Homo sapiens: one gene and its partners. The protein of the gene in region 7 purifies or fractionates together with the protein of the main gene of each other region. This does not show direct contact. Each region holds a gene or a part of one and is shown on either strand. Other genes may lie near its edges.

Region 1 (3,500 bases), on a different chromosome or scaffold from region 7:
AAAAACATCCCATGAGCCAAACAGCATGTCTGTGGGCAGTTCAGACCTCCAAGCTGTGCGTCCACACCCTCGCCTGCCTTGTCTTCTGGACACTTTTGTGTGACATAAGAATGGGTTTGAGGGAAAAATTATTATTTTTCTCTGGGTGATGAATATATTTGGTTATTGTCTAAAGCACTTATTAGGCACCTAGTTGCACAGAGTATGGTGCAGTGTAGATATAATCCTTAATTTCCAGTTGCTTACAGTATTAAGAGTTTAGGACAGAGAGAGAATGGAAAGCAATACTAACCTCTCATTCAGTTTTCTAGCAGGACCCTGTACCATTTTATCACCTAAGGGAAGCTTGGGCATATAAGAGCATGAGCACAATTTGGATTTTGAGGAAAGAGAGGCTAGGTGCCTTGCACACAATAAGCTCTCAGTAATGACTCTATTCATTGCTTGGGTTGAAGAGTGATTAATTGGGGGTGGGGGAGCTGCAGGACAGATTCAGGAACCACAGTGTCTCTAAGCTGAGAGAGCTGTTAGAGGTTGCAAGGCTGTGCATCAGAATTATCTCAATAACTTGTAAAATTCAGATTTACTAGATCTAGGATAGGGTCTTGCAATTTAAATTCAAAGCAAAGCAAAAACCAAGCCAAGGTAATTCAGAGGCAGCCCCATGAGTTTAGTGTACAGGAGAGGAAAGCTAGGTCCAGGGAGTGAAGGCTAGTCTGTTCCAGCTCAGACCAGCCTTGAGTTCCCTAGCCTTGGGACCCCAGAGGGTTTCCTCAGCCACACCCTGCCCAGTGGGGCCATGAGTGAGTGACCATGCTGTGTAAGGAAAGCAGGGATGGTGGCTTTTCTCTCTTCTAGCTGAGGAAAGGCAGCGAACACCAGGCGATTGTGCAGCACTTGGAGAAGTCCTTTGCCATTGCCTCCTTGGTAGAGACGGGCCACCTGGCAGCTTTCTCCCTGACCTCTCACCTCAACGACACCTTCCGCTTTGACTCAGAGAAATTGCAGGTGGGACAGGGTGTCTCCCTAACCCTCAAGACCACAGAACCAGGAGTGACTGGCCTTCTTTTGGCTGTGGAGGGGCCGGCTGCCAAGAGGACCATGAGGCCGACCCAGAAGGACTCTGAGACAGTTGATGAGGATGAAGAAGTGGATCCAGCTCTGACTGTAGGGACCATAAAGAAGCACACCCTCTCCATCGGGGACATGGTCACAGGGACTGTCAAGTCCATTAAGCCTACCCATGTGGTTGTGACTCTGGAAGATGGCATTATTGGCTGTATCCATGCCTCCCACATTCTAGATGATGTTCCAGAGGGCACCTCTCCTACTACCAAGCTGAAGGTTGGGAAGACGGTCACTGCCCGAGTGATTGGCGGGCGAGACATGAAGACATTCAAGTATGGAGGCTCTGGGGGTGGGCTGGCTTCGAGGGAGATTGTTGTTGTTGTGGGAGGACTGGGAAAGTAGGTGGGCTCCAAAAAGTTGCATGTAAGTCAGATTCTCTTTTAGTTAACAAAAGGCATTCACCAAAGAATTATTTTGCAAGATTCTTTTTTTTTTCTTTTTTTTGAGACGGAGTCTCACTCTGTTGCCCAGGCTGAAGTGCAGTGGTGTGATCTCGCCTCACTGCAAGCTCTGCCTCCTGGGTTCACACCCTTCTCCTGCCTCAGCCTCCCAAGTAGCTGGGACTACAGGCACCCACCACCACGCCCGGCTAACTTTTTGTGTTTTTAATAGAGATGGGGTTTCACTGTGTTAGCCAGGATGGTCTCAATCTCCTGACCTTGTGATTTGCTCACCTCCACCTCCCAAAGTGCTGGGATTACAGTGCATTATTCTTTTTAAAAATATGGAATATATGGTGTGGTTGTTAAGAACATGGGTTTGGAGTCAGACCCGGGTTTGAATTCTAGATTAACTGTGACCATGTGGCAGTAGCTACTTAAGTCCAAATTTTATTTTCTTAATTTGTAACGTGAGAGTCATGGTAGCGACTACTTTGTAGGGCCATGGTGAAGACTGAAAGAGAGAACGTGTAGTCTGTTCTTTGCCTAGTGGGTTGCTGGCCTCAGTTACTGCGCTGTATACATCTGCAGTTGTCATTCTCCACCTCCCACTTTAATTATCCTCATTTACTTTAAATCTAGTGCCACATGTTACTGTAGCAGAAATTCTTGCTATAACAAGAACAGCAAAAAAAGAATTCAAAGTCTGGCCAATAATTTGCATATTAATTTCAGTAGCTAACTGTGGGGTCTTCAGTAAGTCAATTATCCTCTAAATAAAGACCTCAGTTTCCTTATTTTTAGAATGAAAGAATTGGAGTATATAGACTGTAAGGAAAATTGTTTTCAGGATCTGATATGACAATCCTAAAAGATCAGGCCAGGCACGGTGGCTCACGCCTGTAATTCCAGCACTTTTGGGAGGCTGAGGTGGGTGGATCACCTGAGATCAGGAGTTCAAGACTAGCCTGGCCAACATGGTGAAACCCCGTCTACTGAAAAAACAAAAATTAGCCGGGCACAGTGCCTGTAGTCCCAGCTACTCGGGAAGCTGAGGCAGGAGAATCACTTGAACTCAGGAGGCAGAGGTTGCAGTGAGCTGAGATTGTGCCATTGCACTCTAGCCTGGGCAAGAGAGTGAGACTCCGTTTCAAAAAAAAAAAAAAAATCAGGTGAGGCTGGGTGTAGTGGCTGAACCCTGTAATCCCAGCACTTTGGGACGATGAGGGAGGTGGAAAACCTGAGCCCAGGAGTTCAAGACCTGCCTGGGCAACATGGTGAGACCCCATCTCTACAAAAAAAAAAATAAATAAATAAAAATAAAAATTAGCTGGGCATGGTGGCATACACCTATAGTCCCAGCTACTTGGGAGGCTGAGCTGGGAGGATTGCTTGAGCCCAGGAGATTGAGGCTACAGTGAGCCATGATTGCGCCACTGCATTCCAGCTTGGGTGACAGAGTGAGACCTTGTCCCAGAAAAAAAAAAAATTCAGATGAGCCTGCTCCTTACTAATAACTGCAAAGGTTGGGAATGGAAACCTTCAGCCTGACACATCTGTCTTCAGTGGTGGTGTGACAGTGGAACAGGGTGCTTTTGTGAGCTTGGTTTGGTGGAGAGTAGGGAGAAATCCTGACCTACAGATTACTGTGTTACAGAGATGAAGAGAAATGATTCAGCTTATTTGTTTCTCCAGGTATCTCCCAATAAGTCACCCCAGATTCGTTCGAACCATCCCGGAGCTGAGTGTTCGGCCAAGGTGAGGGGGACATTAGCAGCACTGTCTTACGGAAAGAGCACTGGGCTTTGGAATTAGGAATCCCGAATTCGAATCTTGATTTTACCAGTGTTAGGATTGATTTTTGCCTTTCTCTGTCCAAGTTTTCTTGTTTCTCTAGTGGGGATATTTGGTTCTCCTAGGGCTGGAGGGATCATATGAAAATTAATGCAAAAGCTGTGTACAGGTTTTAAGTATCAATTTAAAGCCTGGTTT
Region 2 (3,500 bases), on a different chromosome or scaffold from region 7:
TAATTTTTCAACCACTCACGAAAATGTGCATTTATCCTTAAATAACTAATACTCACTTTCCACTGAGAATATCTTGTTTTAACTGAAGAACAAATAAATACCTAAGAAAAATGAAAGGCACAAATTTAACCCAACAGCACAATCGACTGTGAAAAAAAATCTTACACTTCTAACTTGAGAAGTATTATTTCATTAAAAATTACTTGTATTAATGTATAAAAGATGTGCATAGTTTGGGGATACATGAAATAATTGAATACATTCATATAATTTGTAAGGATCAAGTCAGTATACGTGGGGTATCCATCACCTTAAATATTTTTCTCTTCTTTATGCTAGAAATATTTGAATTATTTTCTTCTAGCTATTCTGAAATGTAAAATACGTAATTGTAAACTATAATCACCCTACTGATCTAACACTAGATCTTAGAAGTATTCTTAATTAAAGGCCTGGTGCAGTGGCTCACACCTATAATCCTAGCACTTTGGGAGGGCGAGGCGGGTGGATCACTTGAGGCCAGGAGTTCAAGACCAGCCTGGCCAACATGGCGAAACCCCGTCTCTATTAAAATACGCAAATTGGCTGGGGGTGTGAGCACGTGCCTGTAATCCCAGCTATTTGGGAGGCTGAGGCATGAGAACTGCTTGAACCTGGGGGAACAGAGGTTGCGGTGAACTGAGAACATGCCATTGCACTCCAGCCTAGATGACAGAGCGAGACATCTACTTGTTATGTGAAGGGATACAGACATGGATATAACTACAGATGATAGCTACTATCTCATTGTCAAGGTGTTCTAAAGGAAACCCTTCTAAAGGAACTCAAAAGCTCAACTTTTTCATTTAATAAATAGTATGTGTATATGGAGCAATGAATTTATAATAGAGACCATGAATAAATACAAAGGAGGCAGGATAACATTAAAATAAGTATATACAACATAAGGTTTATTCAAAACTATTCAAACCAATCAGAATCTAATGTTTTTCATTAATCAATGGCATTTCAATGAGTAAAGAAAGTTGGGCGCCAATTTGAATAAACTCCCTGTGGCCAAAGATAGATTATTTTCAACATCAATAAATATAATATTGCAATGTATTGAAACATGTGAATCCTGTTAACATTCCTGAGTTGAGAGTGATACTTAAAAAAAAGAACTCACTAGTCACCTTTGGAGGATGCTAAGAAACCAACTCTTTATTTTGAAAATGCTAAAGGAAAAGAATCATACACTTAAAAAACACGTCCCAGAATAAAATTCTATTATTTGAGGTCTTGTTACCAGGGGACAGGAATCCATTTTATTAGCTGGCTATAAATTGGAAACAATATAAAGACAGTCTTTCAAAACTATCAAAATAACCCTGGCACAATTCTAGATGGTGTTCTTACCGGGTTAGCTCCTCACGAAGGTTATTTGGTTCTGAGGAATAAAACTTAACTCGAAGATGCAGACAATAGGGTGAACCAACTGTCATTTAAAAAAAAAAAAGGTTTTAATAAAATAAACTACTTAAATAATACTTTTCAGCCAGAAAACTGGTCAAAAATCTACTGAAGTGAGACAAAAGATGAGGTTTTTATGGCATTATTGCAGGTTAGATCATAGGCTTCAATTAGATTGTTTTTTAATGTACCAAGCCATCATATTACTATTAACTCTCATCCCAAGAATAGACAGCTATAGATTAATTCTAACAGTTCAGAGCCAAATGCATCAAATAAAAGTCTTGACTGTGCAACCTAACAGCCCTGAAAACCTGCTACACTGAAGAATGCCTATGTTATTAACTGCTCATGGTGAATCTTCCCACACAAATACAATTCAGCAAGTTCACTAACTTCTATAATCTCAGTGGTCTCATTATTTTGAGACAAGAGTTGAGGTGCCCTAATAAGTCTGATAAAAAGTCAAGTTGGATAATGAATAAACAATGGTATTCTCTCTCTGAATGACACTAACATTTTATGTGAATTGTTTCATTTTTCTTAATTTTAAAATATCACAAAGTCTCAAAATACTTTCAATATTAGGGCAGATGCCAAACAGGAAAATTCCAACACAACTAATTAAAAAATAACCATTAAGCATTTCGGGGAAAGTCAATCCCATTTGCAAGCTGCAAGGTTTTCTCCTGGAAAGTTAAGCCCCAATGCAGTTTAATCTAGATTAGTATCAAGCCTACATGACTTGGGGAGTAGCTCAGTGTATCAGAATAAAATAATTTCTAGAAAATGGAAATGCTAAAAAACTCATCTGAAACATGATTTCTTACATCCTATTAGAAATCAGAATTTCTAATATATTCTATTTCCTTTCCCCCCCACAAATAATTTTGTCTGCACTTACTTTTTACTTGCTTTTTGATGCTTTTTGTACCATCCAACCAATGCTGAAAAACAAAAACAAAAATTTAGTTAAGCAGATGACAGAACTTTAAAATTTGAATGAATTACTAAAAGTTACTTTTCATTGTGCCTACACTGATAACCGCAAGGAAATACTTCACAAGAGAAAAACCCAAGTGAATGAGAAAAGAGGTGAGAAGGAAGAGTATCTAGCCAATATCCACCATAGCAAGCTTATGACACACGTGAACAAAAACGACCTAAAACCTGACAGATGACTTTTTTTTTTTTTAAATACTTTAAGTTCTGGGATACATGTGCAGAACGTGCAGGTTTGTTACGTAAGTATACACATGCCATGGTGGTTTGCTGCACCCATCAACACATCATCTACATTAGATATTTCTCCTAATGGTATCCCTCCCCTAGTCCCTCACCCTCCCAACAGGCGCCAGTATGTGATGTTCCCCTCCCTGTGTCCATGTGTTACCATTGTTCAACTCCCACTTATGAGGAAGAACATGCAGTGTTTGGTTTTCTGTTCCTGTGTTAGTTTGCTAAGAATGATGGTTTCCAGCTTCATCTATGTCCCTGCAAAGGACATGAACTCATCCTATTTTATGGCTGCATAGTATTCCATGGTGTATATGTGCTACATTTTCCTTATCCAGTCTATCATTGATGGGCATTTGGGTTGGTTCCAAGTCTTTGCTATTGTGAACAGTGCTGCAATAAACATATGTGTGCATGTGTCTTTATAGTAGAATGACTTATAATCCTTTGGGTATATACGCAGTAATGGGATTGCTGGGTCAAATGATATTTCTGGTTCTAGATCTTTGAGGAAATCACCACACTGTCTTCCACAATGGTTGAACCAATTTACACCCCCACCAAAAAAAGCATTCCTATTTCTCCACATCCTCTCCAGCACCTGTTGTTTCCTGACTTTTTAATAATGGCCATTCTAACTGGTGTGAGATGGTATCTCATTGTGGTTTTGATTTGCATTTCTCTAATAACCAGTGATGATGCGCTTTTTTTCATGTGTTTGCTGGCCATATAAATGTCTGCTTTTGAGAAGTGTCTGTTCATATCCTTCACCCACTTTTTGATGGGGTTGTTTTTTTCTGGAAAATTTGTTT
Region 3 (3,500 bases), on a different chromosome or scaffold from region 7:
CCAAGGCTTGGTGAAGGCCGTCAGTCATCCCTATGACCCTCATCCTGCTTTTGGTTCACCCCAGTTTGATGTACTTCACCCTCGGACATAGCCCTGGAACTTTGACCCACTCCCTCAGTGCTTCCCATCAGCCCAGCTTCCCTCTCATCTGCCTTACCAAAGATTTCTTACTCGGTTTCTCATCTGACCCTTGTGGAAACTATTACCATTCACTGTTGTCATTCCCACATTGCAGATGAGATGCAATAGTTCACTCAAAGTTCTATAGATTGGGGTGGTGGGGCTGATGCTGGATCTCAGCCCTTCCTTGCCTTTCCACTCCATGACCCCCTGCCCTCCCACCCCATCTGCCTCAGGTGTTGCAGTGGCTCTCGGGCCCAGGGGAGGAGCAGCTGGCAAGCTTTGCTATGCCTGGGGACACCTTGTCTGCCCTGCAGGAGACAGAGCTGCGATTCCGTGCTTTCAGCGCTGAGGTCCAGGTGAGAAGGGGCTGGAGGGCAGGTGAGAGGAGGCAGGGGGAGACTACCTAGGAGTGAGGACCAGGTCTGAGCGCAGCCTCCCTTCTCCAGGAGCGCCTGGCCCAGGCACGGGAGGCCCTGGCTCTGGAGGAGAATGCCACCTCCCAGAAGGTGCTGGATATCTTTGAACAGCGGCTGGAGCAGGTTGAGAGTGGCCTCCATCGGGCCCTGCGGCTACAGCGCTTCTTCCAGCAGGTGCATGCAGAGCCTTTTCCTTCTGTGCCCCCCCATTTCCATTTATTCACTTCCTTTCTGCCTGGAGAGGCTAATCAAGTTGTTAAAAGTGGAGGCTGAGGGGCCCATCTCCTAGGTTTTTGCTCTTAGCTCTGCCACCTCCTTGCTGAATGGCATGGGGCAAGATACTAAACCTGACTGTGCCTCCATAGATCTACCTCACAGGGCTGCTGTGGGGATTACACGAGGCAATACATAAAAGCCCTTAGCACAGAGCCTGCCACTCATAAATGTCGTATGAGTACCGGTTATTCTTTTATATAGGCTCTTCCATCTCCATACCAACTCCGAGTGACATGGTTAGGCAGTGATGGTGGAACAGTGAGAAAACAGGAGAGTGACGGGCATTGGGAGGCCACAGGCAAGAGGACAAGGGCTGTCACTGGGCATCCTTCGTGAGCAACACAGGCCCTTACCCTTTCTCTCCCATCCCCAACCCCTTTGACTTCGTAGGCACATGAATGGGTGGATGAGGGCTTTGCTCGGCTGGCAGGAGCTGGGCCGGGTCGGGAGGCTGTGCTGGCTGCACTGGCCCTGCGGCGGGCCCCAGAGCCCAGTGCCGGCACCTTCCAGGAGATGCGGGCCCTGGCCCTGGACCTGGGCAGCCCAGCAGCCCTGCGAGAATGGGGCCGCTGCCAGGCCCGCTGCCAAGAGCTAGAGAGGAGGATCCAGCAACACGTGGGAGAGGAGGCGAGCCCACGGGGCTACCGACGACGGCGGGCAGACGGTGCCAGCAGTGGAGGGGCCCAGTGGGGGCCCCGCAGCCCCTCGCCCAGCCTCAGCTCCTTGCTGCTCCCCAGCAGCCCTGGGCCACGGCCAGCCCCATCCCATTGCTCCCTGGCCCCATGTGGAGAGGACTATGAGGAAGAGGGCCCTGAGCTGGCTCCAGAAGCAGAGGGCAGGCCCCCAAGAGCTGTGCTGATCCGAGGCCTGGAGGTCACCAGCACTGAGGTGGTAGACAGGACGTGCTCACCACGGGAACACGTGCTGCTGGGCCGGGCTAGGGGGCCAGACGGACCCTGGGGAGTAGGCACCCCCCGGATGGAGCGCAAGCGAAGCATCAGGTGAGATCCCAGCCCAACTGGTGCTAAGAGGCGGAGCCAACTGCCCAGTAGGAAAAGAAGATGACATTGTTGGGGGTACTGGCTCCCTCCCACACCTCCTCTGCCACTCCTATTGTGCCTGCAGTGCCCAGCAGCGGCTGGTGTCTGAGCTGATTGCCTGTGAACAAGATTACGTGGCCACCTTGAGTGAGCCAGTGCCACCCCCTGGGCCTGAGCTGACGCCTGAACTTCGGGGCACCTGGGCTGCTGCCCTGAGTGCCCGGGAAAGGCTTCGCAGCTTCCACCGGACACACTTTCTGCGGGAGCTTCAGGGCTGCGCCACCCACCCCCTACGCATTGGGGCCTGCTTCCTTCGCCACGTGAGTGATCCCCTCAACTTCTTCCAAGTGCTCTCCCTTCTCTGTTCCAGCCTCATCCATCTGTCCCTCTTTCTCAGTACCCACGGCCCTCTCCTCCCATGTGTGGTCCATGACCTTGGGGCCCAGCCCTGTTCTGTGGGCACTTCTGCCTCTACTCAGCCTCTGCGCCCTGCTCTCAAGAGCTGCCTGGACTATGCTCTCTCCACAGGGAGCCCTTCCCTCCCTGGTAGGCTGAGTGCTCCCTGGTGACCCATCCCTCATTTGGGCTACAGAGAGGATAGAGAGGGGGAAGAGAGAGGCTTGTCTGCAGCGGCCTCACCGGGGACTCCTTATCTGTTCTTTACTGGCACAGGGGGACCAGTTCAGCCTTTATGCACAGTACGTGAAGCACCGACACAAACTGGAGAATGGTCTGGCTGCGCTCAGTCCCTTAAGCAAGGTAACTTTTTCTCCAACCTTCAGGAGAAAAGTAGAGAGGCCAGAAAGACCTAAAAACCCACCCAACAAATCCCTCAGGGCAAAAAACTGGATATGCCCAGGAACATCACCTACCAATCATCTCCTAGAATTGCCGAGGGTGGGACAAGCACCGGACTGGTGAGGCCAGGTTCTTATCCAGTCCACCTGAGGGACTGGGCAGGACTCCTGTTTCCTCTGGGCCTCTATTTCCACAGCTGGTAAATGGGGGCAATAGTCACTATAGCCAGCTCACAGGGAGGATCTAAGCATCAGAAGAGCTCACATCAAAAGACGTACAAGTGACTAAAAGTTCAAAGGCAGTGGCCGGGCGCGGTGACTCACACCTGTAATCCCAGCACTTTGGGAGGCCGAGGCGGGTGGATCACGAGGTCAGGAGATTGAGACTATCTGGCCAATATAGTGAAACCCCATCTCTACTAGAAATACAAAAAAAAAAAAAAAATTAGCCAGGCGTGGTGGCGGGCACCTGTAGTCCCAGCTACTCGGGAGGCTGAGGCAGAAGAATGGCGTGAACCTGGGAGGCGGAGCTTGCAGTGAGCCGAGATTGTGCCACTGCACTCCAGCCTGGGCGACAGAGCAAGACTCCATCTCAGGGGAAAAGAAGAAAAGAAAAGAAAAGTTCAAAGCCAGAAAGTAAAGGGGATTACTATTTTGATTCTTCTTCCATTTCCCTTCAAGATATAGACAGTGATTGCTGGCCTGCAGGCCCCCACCTGCTTTCTTTCCAGGGAGAATGGTTTTGCCTTACTTTAGGGAGCATCTGGGCTTCATCTATACCCAAAAGCCTAGGGTATCACCCACCTACCCCCCAACCCCTGAGCTTGGCCCCCAGAGGCTCCACCCCT
Region 4 (3,500 bases), on a different chromosome or scaffold from region 7:
CACAGCAGTTCTCTCTCTGGCCCTTGATGGGGCCTGTATGGCCAGGAGGGACCAGGGTGGCCAGGTGGAGGACCTTGTTCTCAGGGAACAGGCCATGTGGGACTGTCCTGTCCTTATCCTCTCTGCCTCCCTCCAGGGGCCCAGGGCAGCAGGTGAATGTGGAGTAGCCTCAAGATATAAGGGATGAGAAGGGAGGCTAGCGCCCCAAAGGATAAGCCTGGTAGCATGAGTGAGTGAAGTGGACCAGGGGCCATGAAACCCCCATGAGCAGTGTAGGCTTTGAGGCCAGTTTGCCAGTGATGGGGTTGGATCAGATTCATAATCTCAAAGCTTCCTTTCATTTCGCCATTCTAGAACTCTACTCTGGTTCTATACTTGACAGAGAACATCAACTTTCTCCACCTGCTTCCTCTCATTGGCACATGTGAAAAAGCACCCTAGGGGTGATTTCCCCTGAACCTCCCTGGCCAGCCCATGTCCCGGGCTCCTGCAGCTGGCCTGAAGCAGAGTAAAGTAAATAGAAAAGGTCAGCTACCCATTTTAGAAGGAAACTCTATGGAATGCAAACTTGGCATTCCCTGTTGCTTTGCCACAAAGAAGTTGCTTAGGGGTTGGCTGCCCCGGCCCAGCCACATTCCTGCCCTCTCTGCTGGGCACAACTTCTTTGCTTCCAAATGTCTTCTCAAGTCATTGAAAGGCTCAGAGAGCCCCAGGCTACCCATAAAGCTCTTTCTTGAGTGCCTTCTGAATTCCTTTATCCAGCTTGAGGCAATGTATGCTGAGCCCCTCCTGGAGCTGCCTGGTGCATTTAGGGCAGGCTGTGAAAGACAGACATGCAGCCGACACAGGGCCACGTGCATGGAGTGGGGCCTGCTGTGGAGAGGGTAGAGAGGCAAGTGGGGCAAAGGGGGCCCAGGAGAAGGGCGGTTACTGTGCCTCAGGGTGAGTAGGGACACTGGGAGGGGCCCACAGGGCCACCTCCTGGAGCTGGCTCTTTAAGCGTGATGGACGGGGAAGTGTGTAGCTGAGGGGGTGAGCAGGCTGTGGGGCCAGGACCACGTGAAGAAGCTTAGACTTGTTTTGGGGACACTGGGGTCCCTGAGTCAGAGGGAGGGCCAGTGGAGGCACTGAGGTGGCTGATGTGTCTGCTCCTGTGGAGAGACAGCAAAGCTCCACCCAGACACTGGCTGCCGGTATAGGGTGGACTTTGGGTGGCCTAGGGCATTTGGTGCAAAGGATAGTGTCTTAGAAGCCATTGGGCTTTCTGGGCTGCCCTCCTTCCCATAGACTCTGGGGGCAGAAAGCCCCAAAAAAGCATGGCTTGGTCTCTGCTTCCCTTTGGCTAGGGGACAGCCTGGCCCTAAGCCACAGAGACTGGCCACCAGCAGAGCTGAGGTGCTGGTGCTGCCTGACTCAGAACCCTGCCACAGTCTTCTGCTGCCTTATGGCCCCTCTGCCTGTTTCCTCTTTATGTTTTTGAGTACTTCGTTGGTTGTTTCTGTGTAGGAAGAATACTGATTAGAAATTCCGGAAACTACAGAAAATCAGAGAAGCAAGTAAAAATCACTCAGAGCTGGACATGGTGGCTCATGCCTGTAGTCCCAGCTATTCAGGAGGCTGAGACAGGAGGATTGCTTAAGCCCAGGAGATCAAGTCCAGCCTGAGCAACATAGGGAGACCCCCATCTCTTTTTTTTTTTTTTTTTTTTTTTTTTGAGATGGGGTCTTGCTGTTCTCGCCCAGGCTGGAGTGCAGTGGCACCATCTCGGCTCACTGCAACCTCTGCCTCCCAGGTTCAAGTGATTCTCCTGCCTCAGCCTCCTGAGTAGCTGGGATTACAGGCACCCGCCACCACATCTGGCTAATTTTTGTTTTTTTAGTAGAGATGGGGTTTCACCATGTTGGTTGGCCAGACTGTTCTTGAACTCCTGACCTCAGGTGATCCACCCGCCTCGGCCTCCCAAAGTGTTGGAATTACAGGTGTGAGCCACCATGCCCAGCCAAGACCCCCATCTCTTGAAAAAAAGTCAGTCCTAGAGATAACCACTGTCAACATTTTTGTTGTTTTTATTTCTTTTCTTTTAGCTAGAGCTAGTACCTTCTCCCCTTAGCAACTTCCTCATTCTAAAATGGGGGTGGCAGAACCATTGTTTGGCTCCAGTTGTCCTCAGAAAGGTGGCTTCCAGATGCCAGTGACTGCTGGTGAGTGCAGGCTGCTTCAGTATTTCCTGGCCAGCTGACAAGGTGTTAGGTGTTGGCCTGCCCTACTGCTCTGGCTGGCACCATCTCGTCACACCCTGCCCAGTCTCCAAGAGCTGTGGTGGCCCCGGACACTGTAAGGCTATGGGAGCTCCTAGGATAGCAGCCTGGACCTGCTTTGTGTGTGAACCTGTTGTCCTACTATTTGTTTCTTGACTTTCCTTTTTTATCTCCATTCTTGTCTCCTTTTGGATTTTTTTGTTTTTAATTATTCCACTTTCTTCCTCTGTTAACTTGTTAATTGTATGCTGTTTTCCCTTTCTTTTAGTGATTTCCACAGGCATAACAACATACATCCTTAACTTATCAAAGTCTAATAGAAAATAGTAGTATTTTTACCATTTCCTCTACAGTGCTTAGGACCTTAGAACACTTTAAGGCTATTTGCCACTCTGCCTTTTACACTATTGTTGCTATATTTTAAATACTATAAGTTGTTATTACTCTTTTATACAGTCAATATTCATTTAAATTCTCTTTTCCCCCTGCTTTTTTTTTGAGACAGGGTCTTGCTTTGTCACCTAGGCTGGAGTGCAGAGTGTGATCATAGCTCTCTGCAGCCTTGAACGCCTGGCTCAAGCAATCCTCTTGCCTTAGCCTCCGAAGTAGCTGGGATTACAGACACAAGCCATTGTATTTACCCTTTCTGAGGCATTTTATTTTTTCCCTGCAATTCCATGTTTCCGTCTGAGATCATTTTCCTCTAGCCTAAAGTATTCCTTTTAGTATTTCTTGAATAACGGATTCACTGATAACTGATTCTCCTAACCTTTCTTTGTCTGAAAAAGTCTTTCTCTTGAAGGCTTCTTAACTAGATTTAGAATTTTGTGTGACATTTATTTTGTCCACACTTCTGAGATACCATTTCATGGTCTTATGGTTTCCATAGTTGCAGTTGAGAAGTCAGTAGTCTGTTTTAGTTTCTGCTTAAACACACTTTTTTTTTTCTCTCCAGGCCCATGAGATTATATGAGGTTGGTGCAAAAGTAATTGTGGTTTCTGCCACTATGTTCAATGGCAAAAACCACAGTTATTTTTGCATCAACCTAATGGGAAGCTCTGCTCAGTCTCTCAGCTTTTCAGCTGCTGCATGTAAATAGACATGCTTTAAGGGGAAAGAGGGACGTGATGTCAGGCTCACTTTGTTGTACTTCCCTTATCTCCATGATTGCAGCCCCTGAAATCCTTGCTGTCTTGGTACTTCTCTAAAGCCATTTAAAATACATATATATACATTTTTTT
Region 5 (3,500 bases), on a different chromosome or scaffold from region 7:
CATCATGTCAGCCAGACTAGTCTTGAACTCCTGACCTCAAGTAATCCGCCCACTTCGGCCTCCAAAAATGCTGGGATTACAGGCATATCGCAAGGTCAGGAGTTCGAGACCAGCCTGGCCAACATGGTGAAACCCCATCTCTACTAAAAAATACAAAAAAATTAGCCAGGCATGTTGGCGCAGGCCTGTAATCCCAGCTACTTAGGAGGCTGAGTCAGGAGAATTGCTTGAACCCGGGAGGCAGAGGTTGCAGTGAGCCGAGATCACACCACTGCACTCCAGTCTGGGTGACAGAGCAAGACTCTGTCTCAAAACAAAAAAAAGGGGGCAAAAAGTGGCTAAATTTCAAGCTCTTGATGGACTATGGAAAGATTATAATGGCCTCCACCAAATCCAAACATGGTAATTGCTCCAATAGCAAAAGTAGTTAAACATCTCTTAGAGCTTATGGTTTGCTTTACTCTGTGTATTTCACTTGTCAACAGTGTAAAAGCTGACAGCTTAATGGTGAAACTATCTTTAATATTGGCAGGGAACAAACTCTCCTAAATAACCTCTCCTTCCCAATTTAAATGCCAGAAGATTGGGAGTGCCTAGAAGTTGTGAGTGGCTTATCAAAAACTGTCAATATGTCCTTGGCTATGACATTTTTGTTTTATATCCATTTTCAGCATTGTCAGAGAACATTGTCCTTTAGGATTTCAGAGTTTCACCAAAACTTAAGTGGAGTTCAGCTAAACAGCTAAGAACAGTAAATGGTTTTAGGGTGGTTGACACGCACACTTCTTGAATTTCTACAGGGCCAGCCTTCTAGCCTTTAACAATTCAGGAAATCATAAACCATCACTTGTTCCTGCCAACTTCCTAATTCCTCTGGTACCATGCAGACAAAGAAACACTCTCTTCCAATCGCAAATAAAATCTTTTTTCTCTTTTTTTAGGTGGACTCTTGCTCTTGTCACCCAGGCTGGAGTGCAGTGGGGTGATCTTGGCTCATTGCAGCCTCAGCCTCCCGGGTTCAAGCGAGTTGCCTGCTCAGCCTCCCAAGTAACAGATTACAGGCACCTGCCACCACATCTGACTAATTTTTGTATTTTAGTAGAGACAGGGTTTCACCATGTTGGCCAGGCTGGTCTCAAACTCCTGACCTCAGGTGATCCACCCATCTCGGGCTCCCATAGTGCTGGGATTACAGGCGTGAGCCACCATGCCCTGCCAGTAAAGTCTTTTTTTTTTTTTGAGAGGGAGTCTCTCTCTGTCGCCCAGGCTGGAGTGCGGTGGAGCAATCTTGGCTCACTGCAGCCTCAGCCTCTAGAGTTCAAGCGATTCTCCTGCTTCAGCTTCCCAAGTAACTGAGATTACAGGCACCTGCCACGTCTGGCTAATTTTTGTATTTTAGTAGAGATCAGATTTCACCATGTTAGTCAGGCTGGTCTCAAACTCCTGACCTCAGGTGATCCTCTCGCCTCAGCCTTGCAAAGTGCTGAGGTACATACAGGCTTTAGCCGCCGCCGCTGGCCTTACTTTATGCCCTTTTTACCACCATGAGGAGAGTAAAGAATTTCTGTCTTGGAGGCTTGATTTGAAGTTAGTGGTTGGGTTAGAAGGGATAGGATACTAAGGTGTACACTGCTCCTATGAAATAAGAGTTGTGGAGTAAAATCATGTGTGACTTCCTCAAGGAAAAGCACTTGAGGCTGGGTACAATGGCTCACACCTATATTCTCAGCACTTTGGGAGGCCAAGGCAGGCGGATCACCTGAGGTCAGGAGTTTGAGACCAGCCTGGCCAACATGGTGAAACCCTGTCTCTGCTAAAAATACAAAAATTAGCCGGGTGTGGTGGCAGGCACCTGTAATCCCAGCTACTCAGGAGGCTGAGGCAGGAGAATTGCTTGAACCCGGGGGACAGAGGTTGCAATGAGTCAAGATCACACCATTGCATTCCAGCCTGGGGGACAAGAGTGAAACTCCATCTCAAAAAAAAAAAAAAGGCCAGGAGCAGTAGCTCACGCCTGTAATCCCAGCACTTTGGGAGGCCGAGGTGGGCGGATCACAAGCTCAAGAGATGGAGACCATCCTAACCAACGTGGTGAAACCCCGTCTCTACTAAAAATACAAAAATTAGCTAGTCATGGTGGCACACTCCTGTAGTCCCAGCTACTCGGAAGGCTGAGGCAGGAGAATTGCTGGAACCCAGGAGGCGCGGGTTGCAGTGAGCTGAGATCACGCCACTGTACTCCATCCTGGAGACAGAGTGAGACTCTGTCTCAAAAAAAAAAAAAAGAAAAAAGAAAAGCACTTAAACCCTAGATAATCATGAGCTGTGTAGTTCCTTTTGCTTCAGACTAGAACATTTTTAAAATGGTCATCGCTCACCTATATGATTTTATCATGTGCACAAATGATTTAGACATAACTTTACAGCTGCTTACCTGACTTTTTCTCCCCCTTAACGGCTCAGGGAGATCCAGAGGATACAGTATTGGAGCATTTTTGCTTGGGACTTTTATAGTAGGGACAGCTTCATCAGTCTGTGATTCTGATTGCTTTGTTCTTCCCAGCAGAGCCCTACCTGTAACCTGCAGTAATCTGTTAACTCCAGTAGTAGGGATTATTGTTGATATATATATATATTTTTTTGAGATGGAGTTTCGCTCTTGTTGCCCTGGTTGGAGTGCAATGGCGCGATCTCGGCTCACTGTAACCTCTGCCTCTGGGGTTTGAGTGATTCTCCTGCCTCTGCCTCCTGAGTAGGTGGGATTACAGGCACCCGCCAACACGCCCGGCTAATTTTTGTATTTTTAGTAGAGACGGGGTTTCGCCATGTTGGCCAGGCTAGTCTCAAACTCCTGATCTCAGGTGATCTGCCCACTTCAGCCTCCCAAAGTGCTGGTATTACAGGCGTGAGCCGCCACGCCCGGCCTGTGGATGTTTTTTTGATCTGTGTTCTGTTGTGTACAGTGTAAGCCATTTGTAGGCTGATTTCTTTCCTAGTTCTTCCTCTTAGTGAAAAGTAAAGCAGTTTAGATCATGTTGAATGATAAACTGAAATTTAGAAATGCAAACATAGAATACAATGTCAGAATATCACCAGGTGCCATTTTGGTTGATATTTTATAAATAGGGAGATATTTTTCTGTTTACTCTCCATAGGGATTTTGACACTTTCCACCCACCCCTTTTTCCTTTTGTCACCTTGGTATATTCTGCCAGAAAACTGACATCAGAATGTCATTGCTTCTGATCGATTTATTTCTGCCATGACACTCAAGCCCATTGTCAGTTATAATTAACTAGTCTAATAGGTATCCAGTTTCTGATATTAATTGATAATGTGTACTTACACGTTAGCGTTGAATATCAAAATAGTACGTTTTGCTTATTAATGTCTGTGGGCTTTTTTAGGTTAATTTAAAACTCTTCTGATTAATACCTTTGCTCAAATATGTGCTACCTAATAGCTATTAAATATTTTATTAGCCTGTTTTTCTTGGATAA
Region 6 (3,500 bases), on a different chromosome or scaffold from region 7:
GGCCCTATAATGTTGTAGGATGCAGTGATGAATCTTGCTTAATCCCATCTTTCCCCTTCCCCGCCCATCCTCCTGATTGCTTCCCAAAATGAAAATGTGGTCATGTCCTATCCCAGCTGCAAAACCTACTTTGGTATGAGATTCCAACCAGTTGGCCCACTAGAGCTCGCGCAGCACAACCCCAGGCCACCTCCCCACCTCCCCTCGGGTGTCTCAGCCCAACTATACTCATCCTTTCCCAGCTGCTCCTGCAGTTTCTATGTAGTCCTCTGCCTGTGCACACACTATGTCCTTTGTCCACCTGGTCTCCTGTTCCCCTGTGAGGAAAGCTGCTCCAGGTCAGGCTAGCCAGCGGTGCTGCCTCTTTCTTTCTGCTCTCTCTGTGACTGCAGTGGGCAGGTAGTACTGGTTACTTTCTCAGTCGTCTCCCTTTCTGAATTAAACTTCTGTATCTTTGTGTGCTCTGTGCACACCATGCAATCACGATGGGGTTGAGGCCGCTTGTGGAGCTGAGTGACTGCTAACAAATCACTAACCTTTCTGAGCCTGAGTTCCTTGATGCCAGCTGCACATGGTTATTGTGAGGATTAAATGAGATGACATAAGCGAAGGGCTTGACATGCATCTCCTTGCAGTGGTGGTCATACAGGACACGGTAGCTGTTGTAATGTGTACCAGTGCATTTTTGAGGCCTTGTCTTGGACCTTGTCCTCTTGATGAAGCCTCCTCCCTGTCTCCCTCCAGCTGCCAACTTCCTCTCTACCACCCTCACTTTACTCACTCCAAGGCACTTAAATCACCATTTAATATATATTAGGTACTCTCTTCTTTGTATTTGTCCACTATATAGGGGGGAATTTTTCTCTCTTAGGAACTCCTGTATCCCTAAGCATTTAGACTTGCCTGAAACAGAATAGAGCTCAATAAATATTTGAATGAATTAATCAGATTTCTTCTGAGGCAGAGGTAGATGCCAGGTTTTATGGAGCTTGAAGGTATACAATTTGGGGGAAGGGGAGAACTCTTTAAGAGAAAGAATGCAAAGTTACAAATAAAAACTAATTTAGAAAGTGAGGCTGGGAGCGGTGGCTCACGCCTGTAATCATAGCACTTTGGGAGGCCGAGGTGGGTGGATCACGAGGTCAAGAGATGGAGAGGCAGGTGGATCACAAGGTCAAGAGATGAAGACCATCCTGGCTAACACAGTGAAACCCCCCGTCTCTACTAAAAATACAAAAAATGAGCCAAGTGTGGTGGCATGTGCCTGTATTCCCAGCTTCTCAGGAGGCTGAGGCAGGAGAATCACTTGAACCCGAGAGGTGGAGGTTGCAGTGAGCCGTGATCACGCCACTGCACTCCAGCCTGGGTGACAGAGCGAGACTCTGTCTCAAAAAAAAAAAAAAAAAGTGAATATTTAGAATGAGAACGTAACAAATTTGAAAAAGCTGATGAATAATGCAAATGGCTAAATTGAGAAAAATAACGTTTGTTAATTATCTAACACACCTGTGTAATATTTCTTCCTTTGGCTGTGTACTTTTTAATCACATTTTCATATGACAGGATATAGAAAGAACTCAGTGATTCCTCTAGCACAGTAGATAAATTTTTATTGTTGATAGGGTACATAAAACTTATGGTTTCACATAGACGTATTTGCTGTTTCTAGTACTGCTACAGGTTGGTGTCCCAGAAAAACAGGTGTTCAGGTAAATCCTGTTTCGCACAATTCCATTCAAAAAAGAAAAAAAAAAAAAACACACATCTTAGGCACACAGAATTGTACTGCTATATTGATTATTTTTCTGGTAACTGATCTATTCGCTTATATTTTAGCACGTCTGATGGTAAATTCCCCACAAACAAGCAACTGGCTCCCTCCATTTCAAACCATGTTTCCTTTCCACTGCCCACACACTTCCCTGAGTCAGACCCCATTGGACCTATTCACATTGCCACAGGATCCCTGGCCCTTCACCTTTATTTCATAAAAGCCCTGGTGAACCAGCACAGTGGGTGATAGTATTTCTAGAAGGAATACCCGCATTGAGATTGCTGGTAATCACCTAGGTTTGCATAGTAGAAGTAACTGTAAACAGCATAAATGTGTCCTGTTAAACCCAAACTAAGTGTCTTTCTCCAACTTAATGTACCCTTACGTGGATCTCAAAAATGCCAGCAGCACCTCCCAAGCTACCTGACATGAAGGGGAAGAGGAACAGAGGCAGAGTTGCAGTGGGAAAAGGCAGTAGTCTTAATTTATTGCAATTAGAATATTTTGGGGGTAAATTTTACAAAAGTGTATGACCATAGGGACACTCTGCTTAGGGCCTTTCTCGGGACCTTGGAAGGAGTTGGTGCAAGTGAGGGCCCAGAAACCTGAGCCAGACTAGCTCTATAGTCAAACTGCTTTAGTGGGGGTAGTTTCCTGGTCCCTGGCTTGATGCCAGATAACCCAGTAGGGGAATGTGAGGTGAAGGTGCTAAGTGAATCTTCCAGGAGCTAGTGGGAATGTGTTTGTGAAGGAGGAACTACTTTTAGAAATTGTTTAAATTACTAGGCTTTTATAAATTTCTTGTCCCCTTTATTATTATTATTATTTTTATTTTTTATTTATTTATTTTTTTTTAGACAGAGTTTCACTCTGTCACCCAGGCTGGAGTGCAGTGGTGCAATCTTGGCTCACTGCAACCTCCGCCTCCCACATTCAAGCGATTCTCCTGCCTCAGTCTCCCAAGTAGCTGGGATTACAGGCACACGCCACCACGCCCAGCCAATTTTTTTGTATTTTTAGTAGAGACAGGGTTTCGCCATGTTGGCCAGGCTGGTCTCAAACTCCTGACCTCAAGTAAACCACCTGCCTCCGTCTCCCAAAGTGCTGGGATTACAGGTGTGAGCCATCACGCCCGGTCCCCCTTTATGATTAAAATCTCAGTTGCTTTGTTAGTATAGTAGTTAATAAGATGAATGTTGGAAAACAAGTATCAGTATCTGAACAAGAAATGGAACCCAGAGAGTGTTTAAAAATATTAATTTTGGCCAGGCGTGGTGGCTCATGCCTGTAATCCCAGCACTCTGGGAGGCTGAGGTGGGCAGATCATGAGGTCAGGAGATCAAGGTCATCCTGGCTAACATGGTGAAACCCCATCTCACTAAAAACACAAAAAATTAGCCGGGCATGGTGGCGGGCGCCTGTGATCCCAACTACTCGGGAGGCTGAGGCAGGAGAATGGCGTGAACCCAGGAGGCGGAGCTTGCAGTGAGGCGAGATTGCGCCACTGCTCTCCAGCCTGGGTGACAGAGCAAGACTCCATCTCAAAAATATATATATATATTAATTTTTAATTGAACTATTTTTGAAAGAAGAGCAAATACAACTCTAAGGGGAAAGACAGTTATTCCAGCTTTCTCTTGGAAGGTAAGTAATGGCATACTGTAGGTAGCCCCTATCAGTTAAGACTTTTAAAGCTGGTAGTACTTCTGCAGGATTCTGCAGAGAA
Region 7 (3,500 bases):
TCAGTTTCCTGATCAGCCAACTAAGGATGAAGGAACAGAGAGAATGAATTAGGAGCCCTTGACAGGGGAGGCTGGGGTGGCATCATGAGACCCCAGGTTCTGCCCTGGTCCCGTCTCTAATTCACCATTGACTGTGCTTCTTTTCTTCTCAGCCATGTTTTCTCATCAGTGGAAGGGGGGTGCTCTGTCAGACAATCTATAAGAAAGCTTTTGTCCAGATCTGACACTATGACGCAGTAACAAAGCCCCAGGCCTTTCCCGCCAGGGCAGTGCTGAGCTCCGTGACTCTAATGCCAGCTGTGCTCTGGCTGGCGAGGTCCTCGAGGGCTGCCTTTGTGTATGAAAAGGCTGTTTGTGGCTACTTTTGAAAAAAATAGTAATTCTTTAATTAACAATTTTTTAATAATTTGTTTTTTCTTAACTTGTGAGTTCAACATACTAATCATATTTTATTTTATAAGCCCTGTAATTTTGATTAATGACTTTCGATGGGCCTTTAATATTTGAGCAAATGAAGTTGAACAGACCTAGCATCCTTAAATAATAAATACCCTTACAAATGTAGCTAATCAAACTCCCTTGGTTCTGTGCTATTCCATAGGGTAGCCCCTACAATCACGCATTTAAAATGTGATGATAGTCCAAATTGAGATGTGTAAAGTGTAAAATATGCAACAGGTTTTGAAGATGAGTTTCAAGAAAGAATGTAAAATATTTCAACAAATTTTATGTGATTTATATGTCGAACTTATAATATTTTTGATATGATGGGCTAAATGAATTCTATTATCACAATTAAGTTTACATATTCCTTTTTACTTTTTAAAAATGGGGTTTCTGGTCTGGTGTGGTAGTTCACACCTGTAATCCCAGCACTTTGGGAGGCCAAGGCAGGAAGATCGCTTGAACCTAGGAGTTCAAGACCAGCTGGGGAAACATGGCAAAACCCCGTATCTCCAAAAAATACAAAATTAGCCTGAAGTGGTGGTACAAGCCTGTTGTCCCAGCTACTCGGAAGGCTGAGGTAGGAGGATGGTTTGAGCCCGGGAGTTTGAGGCTGCAATGAATGAGCCATTATTGTGCCACTTCACTCCAGTCTGGGCGATGAAGGAGACCCTGTCTCAATAAAAAAGTAGGGGGAGGGTTGTCCTGGAATATTTAAAATTACATGCGTAACTTGCATCATATTTATATTGGATAACACTGCTTTTGATATTCTAAGCACATTTATAAATATGATGAATTCCATATTTTATAGAGCATGAAACAAAATGTTCCCAAGAATTTTAGAAAATGCTTTTAGAACTAAAAAACTAGCATAAGTGAAGTGAATATTAAGTTATTTTTAAAATTTTTATAGATATGAGGGTAGAAGTGCAGTTTTGTTACACGGATATATTACGTAGTGGTGAAGTCTGGGATTATAGTGTACCCAGCACTGGAGTGTTGTACATTGTACCCAATAAGTAATTTTCATTCCTCACTCCCCTCCCATCTTCCCACCTTTTGGAATCTCTGATGTCTGTTACTCCATTCTGTATGTCCATGTGTGCACGTTGTTTGGCTCCTACTTATAAGTGAGAATGTGGTGTTTGACTTTCTGTTTCTGAGTTATTAAAGCGAATATCAAGTTCTCTTAAATATTCTAATGTTTACAGATATTGTCAAATTCTCTTAAATTTTCTACTTCAAAATTGAACCTAAGTCAATTACCTGCTCACATTCATGAGGAACTCAATGGCCAAATGTTTTTAAATATCACAAATATAGGACTTTATGCAACTCACGGAGCTTGACCCAACTTACATTTAACACCATTGGATATATACTATGAGTGTTTGTTTATTTAATCATCTCTATTTTCTAAATTCTAATCTTCCTGGGTTTAAAAGCCACTTACCAAGGAGGAAACAATGGCGCCATTGCAGGTAACTTGGGTTATGCCAAGCAGGTTGAAGTTTTTCCATCTCAGTGGACTGAGCTGAGGTCGGTGTTTTTGTTGTTTTGCCAAAACATAAGATATGGTTCCCCTGTGTTGCTGATGGATGCGCTTGTGCCCTTTTTGATAGTCCGTGCCCTCTAACTGGGCTGGCTCCTTGACCTATGAACTCTGAATCCAAGTTATACAAACCTAATCCCCTACATCTGCCGTGCATCTGGCCTTATTGTTTGATTGGACTGAATTAAACACACATGTTTACTTTTCTATTCTGACCTCTTTTCACATTCTTCCTGCCTGGCAAGACTTCATCTCATAGATACATAAATAATTTATGACAGGCTTCTGCATCTTTCTCCCGGCTTAGCTTGGCTCTCTGGCCACAGGTCAATGACTGATGACAGTTAGCGTGGCCTTCACCGTATTGGGGCCATGGAACGGGGTAGCTCCTAGGGTGCTGGAGCTCGAACTTTACAGAGGGATCTAGAATGAGTGAGAAATGCTGCCCATGGCCCTCCTCATTCAGACCACATTTATTAAGGCTTTATTTATTATATTTATAGAACACTCAAGAATTAAATTCAGTACCCAGCTGTTAGATTCTGAGTTAAGGAATCAGACTTCTCCCTGGGGCAAGGAGGAATAAACAGGTGGCCCCAACTGTCCTTTAGGACAGGAGCTTGGAGTGTAGACCTCCCAGGTGCGTGGCCATCCTCTCCCTGCCTGGACCACAGATGGGACACCATGAGCTTTAACATCCATGCCATGTGCTCAGGCCTGCCCTGAGCAGCCCCCTGGTAGGGCTGGGATCCCCAGGCTGTATCTACTTCCTCAGCTAGCAAGACCTCCAGGCCCTCCATCCTGTCCTCGGCACTGGCCCTTCTCCAGACTCAGAGCATGGTAAGTTATCCAGCATAGCTCTTCCCGGAGCACTTTATTCCAGCCCACCTTCCCAGTGTTGGCCAAGGTGTCATCCACCTGACAATTTACTTAACGTAATTTCCCTCCTTTTTCTTTCTTTCTTTTCTTTTTTTTTAGATGGAGTCTCGCTCTGTCGCCCAGGCTAGAATGCAGTGGTGCAGCTCACTGCAGCTTCAAACTCCTGGGCTCAAGGGATCCTCCCACCTCAGCCTCCCAAATAGCTGGGATTACAGGCGCCTGACACCATGCCTGGCTACTCTTTCTTAATTGATGTTTTAAAATGCAAATACATTTATTTTGAGAAGAAACTTTATATATCACTCCCTTAAATGGAAAGCCATTCATTATAAATCACCATCATGATTATAATGGTGAAAATAAACATAATGGAAATAAAACAATGTTACTAAATTCTAGCCAGATGCATTTGCTGCTTTCCCTTTCCTCAAAAGGGAGGGCTGTAGATGTCAGAGAGACTTTAAAGACTAACCCCATGGGAGATTTCCTCCTCCAAGTCTGTAATTAGAAAGGCTGAAAGGGAAATAAAGAGTATGCATAACTTCCTCATCATGTAATATAGTGGTATATAATGCCAAGTCAATGACCACCTAAATCAATTTTGCATAGTTTTGTGTATGTG

What was found.
Region 1: the proteins of CD6 (region 7) and PDCD11 purify together in Homo sapiens (affinity purification with mass spectrometry; one large-scale study listed by BioGRID and IntAct). This does not show direct contact.
Region 2: the proteins of CD6 (region 7) and EPB41L5 purify together in Homo sapiens (affinity purification with mass spectrometry; one large-scale study listed by BioGRID and IntAct). This does not show direct contact.
Region 3: the proteins of CD6 (region 7) and ARHGEF40 purify together in Homo sapiens (affinity purification with mass spectrometry; one large-scale study listed by BioGRID and IntAct). This does not show direct contact.
Region 4: the proteins of CD6 (region 7) and CCDC12 purify together in Homo sapiens (affinity purification with mass spectrometry; one large-scale study listed by BioGRID and IntAct). This does not show direct contact.
Region 5: the proteins of CD6 (region 7) and PIP5K1A purify together in Homo sapiens (affinity purification with mass spectrometry; one large-scale study listed by BioGRID and IntAct). This does not show direct contact.
Region 6: the proteins of CD6 (region 7) and FARP2 purify together in Homo sapiens (affinity purification with mass spectrometry; one large-scale study listed by BioGRID and IntAct). This does not show direct contact.

The regions. Positions count from the first base shown.
Region 1 is NC_000010.11:103,424,126-103,427,625, forward strand, and holds part of PDCD11 (protein RRP5 homolog), read left to right. Parts: intron 1-858; coding exon 859-1,400; intron 1,401-3,203; coding exon 3,204-3,266; intron 3,267-3,500. UniProt on the Homo sapiens protein: Essential for the generation of mature 18S rRNA, specifically necessary for cleavages at sites A0, 1 and 2 of the 47S precursor. Directly interacts with U3 snoRNA. Involved in the biogenesis of rRNA.
Region 2 is NC_000002.12:120,072,077-120,075,576, reverse strand, and holds part of EPB41L5 (band 4.1-like protein 5), read right to left. Parts: intron 2,400-3,500; coding exon 2,357-2,399; intron 1,478-2,356; coding exon 1,399-1,477; intron 102-1,398; coding exon 57-101; intron 1-56. UniProt on the Homo sapiens protein: Plays a role in the formation and organization of tight junctions during the establishment of polarity in epithelial cells.
Region 3 is NC_000014.9:21,080,304-21,083,803, forward strand, and holds part of ARHGEF40 (rho guanine nucleotide exchange factor 40), read left to right. Parts: intron 1-356; coding exon 357-479; intron 480-569; coding exon 570-713; intron 714-1,016; coding exon of another isoform or gene 1,017-1,151; exon of another isoform or gene 1,152-1,194; intron 1,195-1,205; coding exon 1,206-1,816; intron 1,817-1,940; coding exon 1,941-2,175; intron 2,176-2,527; coding exon 2,528-2,614; intron 2,615-3,500. UniProt on the Homo sapiens protein: May act as a guanine nucleotide exchange factor (GEF).
Region 4 is NC_000003.12:46,928,246-46,931,745, reverse strand, and holds part of CCDC12 (coiled-coil domain-containing protein 12), read left to right. Parts: intron 1-3,500.
Region 5 is NC_000001.11:151,201,552-151,205,051, forward strand, and holds part of PIP5K1A (phosphatidylinositol 4-phosphate 5-kinase type-1 alpha), read left to right. Parts: intron 1-2,254; exon of another isoform or gene 2,255-3,500. UniProt on the Homo sapiens protein: Catalyzes the phosphorylation of phosphatidylinositol 4-phosphate (PtdIns(4)P/PI4P) to form phosphatidylinositol 4,5-bisphosphate (PtdIns(4,5)P2/PIP2), a lipid second messenger that regulates several cellular processes such as signal transduction, vesicle trafficking, actin cytoskeleton dynamics, cell adhesion, and cell motility.
Region 6 is NC_000002.12:241,359,285-241,362,784, forward strand, and holds part of FARP2 (FERM, ARHGEF and pleckstrin domain-containing protein 2), read left to right. Parts: intron 1-1,593; exon of another isoform or gene 1,594-1,716; intron 1,717-3,500. UniProt on the Homo sapiens protein: Functions as a guanine nucleotide exchange factor that activates RAC1. May have relatively low activity. Plays a role in the response to class 3 semaphorins and remodeling of the actin cytoskeleton.
Region 7 is NC_000011.10:60,974,680-60,978,179, forward strand, and holds part of CD6 (T-cell differentiation antigen CD6 isoform 1 precursor), read left to right. Parts: intron 1-3,500.